Homo sapiens: one gene and its partner. Each later gene encodes a partner of the first gene's protein in a complex. Each region holds a gene or a part of one and is shown in the gene's direction. Other genes may lie near its edges.

Region 1 (6,917 bases):
TACCCAGCCCCATCGCCTTTTCTGCCAGGTACAGCTGAACTAAGTTGGGCTAACAAGGCAAATGATGGGCTCCAAACTGTGCTGCATCTGTCTTTATGGTGGCCCTCTTTATTACACCAAGATCCCCAGACACAACCTGCTGGCCCAGAACACTGCCTGCTGCCAACTAGAGCATAACCTGCTCATTCTCTCCACCACCAAGTGCTTTATGGGCCAGGACACAGCCTCCTGGGCAGTGGTCCTTGACCTTGGAATCTGACCTTGACACTGACATCACTGGAACATTAGGAAAAACCCATGAGCCTTGGACTCCCTAGAGACCAGCTAAATCAGAATTGCTGCAGTGGTGCTGGGGCATTTTTCCAATGACAAAGTCTCTTTCTACTCAAGAAATAAACTCAATTCTGATTGAGTCAGGGTTTCATGAATCAAGCTTCATGAATACTTATCCCAAATTATTTCACTTATATGTTGTAAGATGTTCCCATTTTTGTGAGTTTTATATTATTAACTAAGTTAATGGGAAATGAAGTGTATCTGTTAAAACCTAATCAATATTAACTTGTTATAAATATTCCGCAATCTAAACTGCTTTTACATCATTGAAAAGTTATAAAAATTAGCAAATCTGATAGCACCAATTCAATAAAGCAATTTAAAATTACCTAGTAGCACATTCTGTGAAACTTTGACAATATGATGTTACTTGGCTATGATATAATCATGTACTTCAATCATTTGAAAATGGTTGTTTAACTCAAAGGCAGGATTTTTAATGAAAAACAAATGGCCAGAAATACAAAGAACTAGGAATTAGGAGACAACTCTGTTTCTAGGCTCTTCACCAACAAGTTCTTAGGCCCCCATCTCTCTACTTAACTATCATTTAGCAAATACACCATATGAATTGCATGGGTGCCGAGTCTGCTATAAGAATGAATATGTTCTCCACAACAATTTACATATTTATTCATTTCTCTCTCCCTCTTTTTCCTTCTTTTTGGGAGTTCAAAACTTCTTGACTCTATAATTAGTAAATGTTATAAAACTGAACTTGTACATTATATTTGAACTGTTAAAAAGCAAAATTTGAGGCTGGGTGCAGTGGCTCACACCTGTAATCCCAGCACTCTGGGAGGCCGAGGCGGGTGGATCACCTGAGGTCAGAGGTTCGAGACCAGCCTGGCCAACGTGGTAAAACCCCATCTCCACTAAAAATACAAAAATTAGCTGGGTGTGGTGGAGTGTGTCTGTAGTCCCAGGTACTCAGGAGGCTGGGACAGGAGAACTGCTTGAACCTGGGAGGCGGAGGTTGCAGTGAGCCAAGCTCGCACCACTGTACTCCAGCCTGGGCGACAGAGGGAGACTCCATCTCAAAAACAAAAACAAACAAAATTTGAACAAATTTAAAGATGTAAATGGCTTTTATTAGCAATTTATGAATCTGGCAGCATCTCAACTAAAAATTTAGAAACGGTGTTCTGATTAGCTGAGCAGAGGTGGGCTGAAAACGGTTGAAGAAGCAAAAAGAGAATAAAAGACAGATTGGTCATTTCAAAGTTAAACTTTCCTCACAGAGACCAAATGGAGGAGAGACTTCTTTATCATGCTGGCTCAGGTAAATCAGGCCTCCTTGACTCCTTGCTGTGTATCTTCTGGATTTTTTGACAACTGGCCCATTTCTAAGTTGTTTGATTATGTGACACCTAGCACCAGCAACTCCATTCTGATTTGGCCTGGTCTGTTGGGCCTAGTGCAGGGGTTTAATCTAAAACAATGGCTTCCTATACATTTCATTTAACAATACTAATAAAATACCGCTTTTATTTTATTTGTTTACATTGGAGTCCTGCTGTTAAGCAAAAAAAAAAAAAAAAAAAACAGGGAGAAATCATGGTAGAATCGAAAGACCGAAAGCTACTAAAAATTGATAGCATTTAATAGTCCTGAATAAGTTGTTTCTAATTATAATTCAGCTACTAATTTCAAGAAGAAATGGAAATTTAGAAAGTTGAAATTATGAAATATGATTGCTGGGAAGTATAATGGGACAAAAATTAAAAAGCTGAATCTATCTTCACTGCCACTACTGCACTTCTACTCTGGACAACTGCAACCGATCCCTTCCAAAGTGGTTGTATCCAGGCCCACCCTACACCCACTTCCTTCTGAAAAACCAATCCACTTTCCTTAGGATACAGTCCAAACTCCTAAACAAGGCTTACCAAGGCCCTTCAAGATCTGACTCTCGGCGTCTTCTCATCTCTATGCCCCACTCCCCAGTCTCATTACCAGTCATTTTCCTACCACTCTGCTTCAGCTACCCTAGCCTTCTTTCTGGCAGTTCCTGTAAACAGCAAAGCATATTCTAGCATCAGAGGCTTTGCATTTCTAATTCTCTCTGCTGGCAAAATTCTCTCCCTAGATCTTGGCATGGCTGGCTCTTTGTCATTCAGATCCCTGCTCAAATGTCACTTCCTCAGAGACCTTTCCTATCTGTCTTAGTCCGTTTCCTGTTGCTTATAAAATAATTCCTAAAACTCGGTAATTTATAAAGAAAAGTAATTTATTGTCTAGTTTTGGAGGCTGGGAAGTCTAAGACTGACGGACCACGAGACAGCACCGCAAAGTATCACGTGGCCAGGGGGCTGAGCAGGCTCACGAGTTGTCAAGTCTCTCCTTAAAAAGCCACCAGTTCTACCTCCGTGATAACCCATTAATCCATGAATAGATCAATCCACTCGTGAAGACAGAACCCTCACGGTCCAACCACCTCTTAAAGACTCTACCTCTCAGTACTGCCACATTGGGGATTAAATTTCAACATGAGTTTTGAAGGGGACAGATATTCACACCATAGCACTACCTATCTAATACAGCCCATCACGTCCTGGTCAAAATCGATTCCACCATTCTGCTTGATTTTCCTCATATAACCCATCCCTATCTGATAATTTTGTGTTTGTTTCCCCGAAATCACTATCTTGTTCACTGTTGTCTCCCCAGGGACTAGAACAGTGGCCAGTAAACACTTGCTAATGAATAAAGTGCTTAACAAACGTGTCTTGATCAGTCTATCTCGCGTTTTCCCCACGACCCCTCTCCATTCATTCACAGGAACCCGCCAACGTTGCTATCCTTTCAGGAAGGTCCTTGGATCGTCATCGCTATCCCAAAGAGAGTCCGTTCTCCCACTTCAGGCGAGGCATTGCCAGCCTGGAAGCTAACGGGGTCTCAAGGACCGACAGCCGCGCCAAGACCGGGCACTTGCGTCTGACAAGCGCTGAACAGGGGCGGAGAAACAAGGCACCCCTCTACTCGCTTCCTGGAGCCTGCCGCCCTCCCAACCTTAAGCCCTGAACCAGGCTCTCATTTGGCCGCACTCGTGCCTCCCCTGCTGCCAGCACGGCGGCCGGTCCCGGTTACCTGCCTGGGATCTGGCTCAGGCGAACTCTCTTCACACCGCCATTTGAGGGAACACAAATGCCCGCTCTGGGCCACCGTAGTTCACAGAAAGTACAAGCTGGCACCTCCTCCCGCATGCGCAGAGACCGCCTTCGGCGAATAGTGTCTCTTAGCAACGGCTTTGAGTCCCTCCGCCAGGGGCGGAGCCTCGGAAGCCACCACGGGGAAGCTGTAAGGGGAAGTGAGTGAGACCAATCGGAGACGAATCTCTGCCCCGTTCGGCACGCCTCCCTTAACTGTCGCGAATGCAAAGGCAACTTTACGGCAGGCAGAGGGTGGGGGCTGCCGGGGGTAAGGAGGAGAGAAGGAAGCAACCAACCAACCAAGTCGTCCCTACTCCCTCCACCCCCACCCATCCCGGACCTGGTTTACGGCTCCAGGCTCAGGCTCCACTGCGGGCGCTGATTGGTTGTTGAAGGCTTGGTCCCATCCCAGTGACCCCAAAGTGCTGAAGGGAGGGGGCGGGGGTGGCCCAGTGCAAAGTGCATCCCGAAAGCCCCCTGTCCGGAGACCCCACGGCTGGCACTTCGGGCCCCGTATGACCTGGGACCTCGCCGTCCCGAGACCTCCTGGGTCCCTCCGTAGCTGGAAGCCTCCGGCCCGGAGCGCGGCAGCCCCCTGCTCCGAGCCCTGGACCGGGACTGCCCCCCCACCCGAGCCAGGACTTCCTCCCTGCCTCCCTGCACCTCTGCCCCAAGGCTGCCCGGCGGCCGGGATCGCCACCTCCTGCCTTCTCGGCTGTTCGGATGTTCGCCGGGCTGGGGCCGTGAGGCACCGAGGAGGATCAGGAACACCAGGGTCCGGCCCTGCCTGGGGTATTTCTTCAATGGAGAAGTTGGTGAGTGTAGAGGAGGCTGAAAGGAGGAAGAGAAGCAGCAGCTGAGGAGACAGGTAAAGTCCTTTACTTCCCCCGAGGGGAAGAGTGCTGGCTGGGAGGGTAGGAGGGAGGAAAATCTCTGCTTTTTCTTGCCTGCCCTTGCCACTCTCCAGCCCCTTTCCTGAGCTCCCCCCTCCCCACCTCTGAGACACTACACCACTCACTGGTTTCTGTTTTTCTAGGTTTGAGCTGGCTGAAGAAGACGCGAAAGCAGGAAGAGGTCTGCCCACCTATCAGAGAAGCAGAAGGCACAGTGCCTCTGACCAGCATCGTCTGTAAAGGTAATGAGCCAGCCCTCCCCTCCCCCGTTGTTTATTCCTGGCCCCTACCTCATTAAGCAGTGGTTTATTTTCAGGGTGGTTGCCTGGGAATGCAACCTTTCCTACCCCCCCCACCCCCACCCCCAGTTTCCCAGGAAAAACAAAAACATTACCCGTGCCTGATACTTAACATTTTATAACTTCTCTACCCAGGACAGTATTTTCCCACTTTCTTTCTGTACAGTGTGTTTCTGTGTTTTTCATTATCTTTTGGTACACTGTGCCATTTACTCTGCTCTGAGGCTTTGAGACCTTTTTGTAGCTACCCTCCCTTCCTTACTCTCATAGGAATTCCTCAATTCCTTGTTAATTGCTTGTTAATTCTGAATGACTTTCCTTTTTAATTAAACCACAATTTACTGTTTTCCCCCTTACTCTTTCCTATCACCTTTCTTCTACCTGCATCAGAAAAATCTTTTGAGTTATCTAACTGACAACGATTTGGTAGAGAAAGGTAAATTATTGGCCTGAGATTTATGAGTTTCAGAAAATAGTTTGATTTTATTTCCTACTAGAAAGCCAACCTGTGTACCTTAAGAGTGTGAATGGTATGAAGACAACATTATTACCCTGAAGCACTTAGGCATAATTAACTCTTTGGGCTTTCTGTGTGTTTGTGTGTGACAAATGTGGATGGGCTTTGAAACTTATAAAGATACAATGTTTCTTACACCTCAGATTTTCTAGGAGAACTTTTAAAAATTTGCACAATATCTTATTAATCGTTTGACTCAGGAATTTAAAAACAAAGGAACCTTTTGGTGTGTTTACATATCTGGGTCTTAATTTTAGCACTCTATAAAAAAGATTTCTCATTTTAAAACTTTTACGTAGAGTTTGCTGGATTGAAATTTAAGCATCTAATTCATGTGATCACATTTCTGCTGCCATATTTTGTTGCTGCTTCTGAAAATGCTCTGAAAGTAAACTTAGGACATTAGTGTAATTCCTAAAGGGGGGATATAAGCATGGAAATTATACAAGGTTTAATTCCAAAATTAGCCAAATGGATGACTTTTTTAACATCCAGTAGCAAAAGTATAAAGTGACTTGTTAATCTGAGTTATTTTAATATCCCAAATTGTTTAGGGAATTTTTGTTACAAGGAAGTGCTTAAAATAGCAGAAGTTAATATTTTTGATTTCCTATGTTCCACTGGACTTTCTGCCCTCCACAAAAAGAAATTAGTATCTTTACTGATTCTGTTAATTCTTAAGACATAGCTAAAGAGATAAAGACATAGCTTTTAAGGGGATCTGAGGTATGCATATTCTTGAGACATGGAACTGCATGCCAAAAGAAGAGATTCTAGGGAATAGGATTTAGAATCAGTATCTACCAATGACTGTTCCCTGTTGAAAACTTAGGGCAGCTTTTGTATGTATATGTAGGGAATCAGGAGTACTAGACTACATCATTTCAGTAAAAGCTACCCGGAAATCTTTAAAGGCTAATTTTTATTATGTAAGTATGGAAGTTGTCAGGGAGATGGCCTAATGATTACTTCAGAACTTTTAAAAAATGCTAAAATATTTGAAGTATGTTCTAAAGATCAAAATGAAGTACTGTGTTTTGTATTCAAGCCTCTCAGTTAAATATTTTTTCAGCTTTACATGTAACTCTAGGACGCTTTCATTTCTAAAGAGTAGTTTCACCTGAGATGGTAAAGGGAAGGAGTCTGTGGCTAGTCCAGCACATAAGGTAAGAGAGGATAAGTCTTTACTCTGGCTCTCAGCCAGTTCATTCTCATTGCTTAAATCGTATTTCATGGATCATCTCATTTTTTAATAGTTTTTCTAAGATTAGGGAATATGTGTAAATTGTCAACATCTGTCATGTTTCTAATATCAGAATGACTGAGAGTATTTGGTCTAGATTATACCAGGCATTTAGAATATTTAATTTGGGTATTTATTTACCAACATGGCTAGTTAGGTAGCTTACATTTTTTAACCTGGCAGTTAGCTTTGTATTAATTCTATTGCCAATCATGTGGCTTAAAAAAAATCCAATTTATTTCGTCACCAAATATAGATTTATAATCACGTAGGGAGAATAATTGATTTTAATTGAAGATATGCAATGATGCATCTTTAGTATACTGTGGCCAGTACTTACATTCTTTACACATAAAGTGATGTCATTTACAATTAGTTAATACTATGACACATACAGTATCTCTTTAATTTGTTCACGTTTAACTTTGGTGACATAGAGATACACACCATCCCTAAAAAGTCTAAAGCCAGATATGA
Region 2 (7,032 bases), on another chromosome or scaffold:
GGCTAATCTTTTATATTTTTAGTAGAGATGGGGTTTTGTCATGCTGGTCAGGCTGGTCTTGAACTCCTGACCTCAAGTGATCTGCTGGCCTCAGCCTCCCAAAGTGTTGGGATTACAGGCAGGAGCCACCACACCCAGCCCCACTGTGGGTTTTAACCATAGGGATCAACTCCTCCAAGAAAGTTTCCTCTGTTTTTTCCTCAATTCTGAGTCAGGTACCTTCCTCAGAGTCCCTACCATCATACCAGTATATTATGGCATTTACTCACTGGCTCCTGAGGAGTCTACAAAACTCCTAGAAGCAGAGATTGCATCATGAGTTCCCAGCTCAAAATACAGTGTTGGCGGCGGGGCGCTGTGGCTCACGCTTGTAATCTCAGCACTTTGGGAGGCTGAGGCAGGTGGATCACGAGGTCAGGAGATCGAGACCATCCTGGCTAACACGGTGAAACACCGTCTCTACTAAAAATACAAAAAATTAGCCGGGCGTCGTGGCGGGCACCTGTAGTCCCAGCTACTTGGGAGGCTGAGGCAGGAGAATGGCGTGAACCCGGGAGGGGGAGCTTGCAGTGAGCCGAGATCACATCACTGCACTCCAGTCTGGGCAACAGAGAGAGACTCCGTCTCAAAAAAGAAAAAAAAAATACAGTGTTGGCTTTCAGTAGATACTATGAGTATGCCCTTAGTAAATGCTTGTTTAATAAGGTAAGGGGAAAGATGAGAGCTCTCAGAGACCTTTGGCAGGGAGCACTGTTCCCAACAGTGGATTTCTGCATGGGTGCCCTTTGCTAGTGTGGCCACTGACTTTCCTTCCTCTGTTACTGGGCCAGCTCCTTCAAGGCCTCTCCCTAGATGGGGCCATCTCAGGCCCCACCAACAGTTCGGGAGTCCGAGGGAACACTCGCCCCCACCCACTCTATCTCCAGGTCAATCAACCCACAAGCACAGTTATGGAAGGGGACCATTCTAGGTGTGACCTAGACCTGGGGTTTTAAAATCCTGCACTTTGAGCCGCCACATGGTTCCAGGGCAATGATGAGATGTTTCTGGGATTTTGCCAACAAAGAAGTATCCAACTACGTGGGGAATCTTGAGGTGATTTACATATTAGCTCTTTGAGTTTGCTGTTGAATAGATCTTTGTGCTGCTACAGTTTGAAGCCTGAAATGGACACTCCTAGGCTTGCAGTTGAGAGTGTGAATTGCTACCATGTTTGGGGAGGTAATCTGGCCATGATTTCTCCGAGGCGACGCAGTCAAGTGATTCTCCTTCCATCTCCTTTCCATCGCCCTGTTATTTCTCATATAGGAATTACTACCTGTGTTCTCGGGGCTCCATGGCGATTTAAGTTTTTCTTTTAAAGATCATTGATCAAGTTTGAAAAACTCTGCATTTCACTATTTATTAAAGGTCTTATCCGTGTGAGGTGCCAGGGAGTGGGGAATAACAGCAAAAAAGACGAAATAATGCTTAGAGACTAAAATTTGTGATGACAGTTGGGAAGAAGAACTGGCACACCTGAACCAATGACAAGTAAGTTGAAAACTGGATTGTATTAGGTTGCTGCAAAAGTAATTGTGGTTTTTGCAATTAAAATACTAACTTTGAATACAGCAGTTTCTCAGCAGGAGGCAGGTGAGCCAGAACCTTCCTTACCAGGGAGGAGGTGGCTGTGAACTGAACCTTGAAGTTGAACCTGAGGAGGGTATGAAGGGAGTCAGCGAAGCAGGAGCCAAGTTCATGGCTCCAAGATGCAAGCTGAGAGCTGAGGAGACAGGGCTCTCTCTTCCAAGAACCTTAGCCAGAGCCTGTTGCCTCCTTATGCTGGGTTTGGCCAGCCACCCAGACCAAACAGAGGTGGTGCATAAAAAATGGGAGGTTTTCAACCTCTCACCTCTCACCACTGCCTCCAGCCAGCGTGCAAATTAGCCTCCAGATCCCTCCTCCCAGGGTTGGAGAAGTTGATGGGGATGTGTCAGCTACAGTCGAGCATAGCTGGTGAGCTTACGGCTAGTTAGCTCCTTTTGCCATTTGGCAAAGCCCTCTGTTTTGCTGCAGTTTTCATCCTGTGTCTCTCACACTGGTTTTTTGTTTGTTTTTTAGAGACAAGATCTTGCTGTTTCTCTCAGGATGGAGTGCAGTGATGTGATCACGGCTCAGCTTACTGCAATCTTGACCTCCTAAGCTCAAGTGATCCCCAGTCCTCTCTCCTCAGACTCCCAAGTAGCTGGGACCACAAGTGCATACCAACACACCTGGCTAATTGTTTTTAATTTTTGTAGAAATAAGGTCTCGCTATGTTGCTCAGGCTGGTCTTGAACCCCTGGCCTCAAGTGATCCTCCCACTTTGGCTTCCCAGAGTGTTGGGATTCTAGGTGTGAGCCACCGCATCCAGCCTCACACTGTTGCTTCCTGCTGGACACTGACTTCCACCATCCCTAGACTTCCTTAATGGTGATTTCAATAGCGCTTTTTACTTGTACAGGACTTTACACTTTAAAAAGTGGAATAAAATTATTATTATTATTATTTACACCTCACAACAACTCTGTGAGAAGATTCCCTTTGCCATTTGGCAGATGAGGAAACCAAGTGCGCCTTTGAAAGTTGAAGGAGGGCTGGGCACGGTGGCTCATGCCTGTATTCCTAGCACTTTGGGAGACTGAGGTGGGCTTATCATCTGAGGTCAGGAGTTCAAGACCAGCCTGGCCACCATGATGAAGCCCTGTCTCTACTAAAACTACAAAAATGAGCCAGGTGTGGTGGTGCACGCCTGTAGTTCCAGCTACTTGGGAGGCTGAGACAGGAGAATCTCTTGAACCCGGGAGGTGGAGGTTGCAGTGAGTGGAGATCACACTGCTGCACTCCAGGCTGGGTGACAGAGCAAGACTTTGTCTCAAAAAATAAATAAAAAACAAAAAAAAAGAAAGGTGAAAGAGTTTATGCAAGATTTTTAAGAGGAATGCTGAGATATGAACACCAGCTGTTCTGAGTCCCAATGTTGGGCTGTAACTACCAAGTCATTGGGGTTCACCAATTAAATGGATTTAGGCTCATCGAATTGTTGGCAAGTGTTTAATATGCAGGAAAAAGAGATTTTTAAAATTATAAGAATGCAGTTACTTTTGTATTTATTGTAATTCAAGCATGATGAGGGCATTCGAATCTTCCTCAGTTTTTCTGTGCTCACTTCACCCCCCATCTCCCTTTTCCCTAAGTGCTTGTGATGCATATATGTTAAGCTCAATAAACAATAAACTAGGGCCTGGCGTGATGGCTCATGCCTGTAATCCCAGCAATTTAGGAGGCCAAGGTGAGCCGATCACCAGAGGTCAGGAGTTCCAGACAAGCCTGGTCAACATGGCGAAATCCCATCTCTATTAAAAATACAAAAAATTAGCTGGGCATGGTGGTGCACGCCTGTAGTCCCAGCTACTCAGGAGGCTGAGGCGGGAGAATTGCTTGAACCCGGGAGGCGGAGGTTATAGTGAGCTGAGATCGCACCACTGCACTGCAACCTAGGCTAAAAAGCGAGACTCTGTCTCAAAAACAAACAAACAAACAAACAAACACAATAAAGTAGGATGTAGCTAGGATAATGGAATGTCTACTTGGCATTTGCTTTAGAGAATGAAATTTATCATATGTCAGTTCTTTCTTTATAGCTTGTCAATTCAAAAGGTTTAGTCCACTCCATGTTGAAATTAGAGCAAATGTTGCCTCCACAGAATTTGAATTAATGACATTTCATTGGAATACCAACCTTAATTGCATAATATATTTCAGTGTTTCCACCTTGTCCATGAGCAAGTACGTTCTGAACTAAAATGGGATAGCAGTCTCTTCACTGGTAGCTCAAGCAATTTGTGGAAACCAGACTTCAGGGGCAATCACACATGGAGGCTGCCCCCAGGGGAGAAGAGAATTGGATGGAGCATCGTGGGAAGGAGGGGAGCGAAGGGAGGCGGAAGACGGAGACAGAAGACAAGCAGAGAGGGAATGTGTGTGTTAGCTAACAGCTAAAGCTAATTGATCTAATCAATCCAGCAGAGAGGTGATTTTTCTTACTAAGTGACAGGCCAAATCGGTGTCTGAACAGATGTGATGTGGGTTGCGTCCAGCACCTGGAACAAAGACAGCAAAGAGCTGCCCCATGGAGATCGCCAATAGATGTGCTTCATGTCAGTTAATCATTGTGGGAGAAGATAGGGCTGCCTTCAGGCCAGTGCCAGAGCACATGCACACACATGCACACACGCACACATACACACATACACACGCACACACACGTATCCATTTCATTCATCCACTCTCATTGTCTCTCCCTCTGAGACGTGCTTTCTTGTGATACCCAAACTCACAAGCCCAAGTACATCACATTACACAAATCTTCAGAGACTCCCAAGATGTCAGGACCCGGGAGATCCACACCTCTGCCTACCTGGGCTGGCCAATCTGTGGCATGGTCTGAGGTGAGCTCAGACAGCCCCCTCCCCGATGCCATGCCTGGGGCAGTCTTTAGGTGGCCACGAACCCATTAGAGTTACAGATCCTCTGGAGGAAGAGGATGGGCCAGTCTAGGTGAGACTTTCAGCCTAAGAGGGGTACAAGAACTGGGGCCCCTCAAGGAGGTTGAAAGTGGAGGTGAGATGGGGTTGGGAGTGGGCATTGTTCTCAAACCCTCCCATTCCTGTGCATGAATCTGACCTCACAGAATAACCTCTCAGGTGGCTGAGGCCATCCCCGCCCAAGGCATCAGGGCAGGGCTGTGCACTTGGCTCCCTGGCCTGTTGGCTTGGGGGACATTTTCACTCTTCTTGCTGCTGCAGAGCCATTTGCTGCTAAATCACCCTCCTCTTGGCACCATGGACTGCTAAATTGGTCTCAACTTGCTGTACTTCCACCCACCACCTTAGTCATTATTCGCTGGCAGCATTCAGAGAGTGGGTGTAAGGCAGCCGAACATTATATTCCTGCTGTAAAGAGGGAGAATTGAGTATAGACATGCAAGGAGAGGGGAGAGAGGGAAGGAGGGAAGACAGCGTGAAGGAGGCAGGGAAACAAGGCCTGGGGTTTGCCAGCACCTTTCCCTGGTGACCCCAGTGACACTGGATTGGGGGGGCATTATAGGTGAGTGGGTCCTGGCTCAGTGGGAGGAGACAGAGGGGTCCACCTGCTACTGAGTGTCTTCCCACCCCTGGTCTGGAGGCAGGAAAGGACATTAGCCATGGGAAGAGAAGGGTTCTGCCCTCTGTGAACTCCCTGTTCCTTGAATTCTACAGTGTATAACGTACTTGTCACTCCCATTTGAGCACTTGTTCCCATGTATTCATATTTAGCTTTTTATCTCTATCCTCCCTCCCAGCATAGGTTATAAGCCCCTTGAAAGAGAATGTGTGTCCCGCATCTGATATATAGCACCAGGCCTTAGGAATGGTCTAGGGCTCGGTCCCAAATGGCAGAGATGGATGGCGCTAAGGCCCACAGTGCTTCTTTCTACCCAGCCACTTCAGATCTCTCTGTGCCACTCAAGGGCCACAGAAATTGGAAAGCCAGGCAAGCAAGAGGAGATGGAATCACAAGGGAATCTACAGGGCTTGGTCTGCAATCTCAGTGGGAAACTCCAGGGAGGGAAAGGGTTACACTGCAGAACAGACCAGCCAGGAAAGCAGAAACTTAAGAGACCTGTGGTCCTTGTGCAGAAGGCTGGGGGTGATCTCCACCTGGCACATGGGCTCTCCTGATAGCTCATCCATTGCCCAATGCCCAGGCATGGTGCCGGGGCTGGCAGGAGGTAGGAAGCAGAATCGGTTCTCACATCGGGCAGCAGTGACAGCGTCAGGCAGGGCAGACTGACCTTGACAGGAGGCTCCCTGAGTCACTGATAACATTTGTTTGGGCACCCAGGGAGAGGTTAGAAAGGGAACTCATGCCATCCCAAGCTGGCTTGGGACCTCTTGGGGCCCCCAACCCAGGCTCCTTGCCTCCCACACTCTGCTTGGGGGAGATAATAGGAAAATGCCAAGAACAGAAGCCTCCCTAGCTAGGGAGATGGGGAGACTCTTGAGGGATATGGGGATGAGCCCTGAGGCTGCCCTTGACCTTCCAGAGAGGCAGCCCCATGCCTGGTGTCTGTAGGTACCTGTGTGGGGTCTGCCCTCCCCTCTGTCTCCCATGGTCATCCCCAGCAGAGGTCCAGAAGGACAATCTACACACTCAGGGTAGCTTCCCTTATTTATTGCAACCTTCAGACACTCCAGCTTGAGCTCTTCCCTGCTCCCCGCCACCCCCAAAGGGCATTTCCACAGTGCAAGGGGAGGAGGGAGGGAAGCATGGACTGGACAGCGCACACATCTTGAGGAGACAGCCTCCCCCTCCTTGCCTATCAAATTCCCCCAGCCCCAACGCCTCCGTGGCCCCAGCAGACAAACCACACTGCAGGCAGGTGGGGAAAATGAGAGGAGCCAGGCGGAGCCCCCAGCCTCCACCTGCACTGTAAAGCGAGCCGGCCCCTGAAGGAGGCCTGGGAAGGACTCCCCAGCTGCCTTCGGCTCCTCCCCTTGCCAGGCCCGCAGCTGGCCCTGCTCAAAGGCTGTGCAGCCGGCTGGTGGCTGGTGGGGCAGGTGTGGGCAGGATGCGTGGCTATTCCCAAGACAGGATTTCTTCATCTATCAAACTAGAAGCACCAGGCATTTGGCTTCTCTGGGCTTCCACCAGTACCTCGGACATCTGTTGACTTAGAAACTTTTTCTTGATGTTGGACTTACTTCTATTCTAGAGCCGCAGACAGGACCTCCAACTCTAGGGTCCTAAGATTTGTCAGGACACAAAAGAGCCTGTGCTGAAAAAACTTCAGATACTCTACATGCAAACACAACACCTCAGGGTTGAAAGGATGCTTAAAAACCACTCTATCCATATCCTCTCCCTGTCTCCCCTACACACACACAAATACTCACTGCCAAGAACTTTTATTTCACACCTCAGGAACCCAGTTCTTTCCATTTTCTTTTTTCTTTTTATTTTATTTAT

What was found. Proteins that work in one complex are often made in the same cells at the same time.
Region 2: the proteins of ASB7 (region 1) and LZTS1 are in contact, whole or in part, in a crystal structure (PDB 8Y1U), measured with the Homo sapiens proteins. Residues at the interface, in NP_937886.1 of Homo sapiens: Asn46, Trp48, Ala56, Ile79, Phe82, Tyr87, Met90, His91, Asp116, Trp118, Val123, His126, Tyr127, Ser147, Lys149, Thr151, Gln155, Leu156, Ile159, Arg160, Phe182, Arg185, Tyr186, Ile189, Lys190, Arg210, Leu220, Leu223; in NP_001349813.1 of Homo sapiens: Arg346, Glu348, Leu349, Leu352, Met353, Glu355, Gln356, Leu358, Leu359, Glu360, Lys362, Leu363, Arg364, Ser365, Tyr366.

Annotation. Positions count from the first base shown.
Region 1 is NC_000015.10:100,598,691-100,605,607, forward strand, and holds the start of ASB7 (ankyrin repeat and SOCS box protein 7), read left to right. Parts: upstream 1-3,898; 5' UTR 3,899-4,356; intron 4,357-4,524; 5' UTR 4,525-4,623; intron 4,624-6,917. UniProt on the Homo sapiens protein: Probable substrate-recognition component of a SCF-like ECS (Elongin-Cullin-SOCS-box protein) E3 ubiquitin-protein ligase complex which mediates the ubiquitination and subsequent proteasomal degradation of target proteins.
Region 2 is NC_000008.11:20,293,946-20,300,977, reverse strand, and holds part of LZTS1 (leucine zipper putative tumor suppressor 1), read left to right. Parts: intron 1-7,032. UniProt on the Homo sapiens protein: Involved in the regulation of cell growth. May stabilize the active CDC2-cyclin B1 complex and thereby contribute to the regulation of the cell cycle and the prevention of uncontrolled cell proliferation. May act as a tumor suppressor.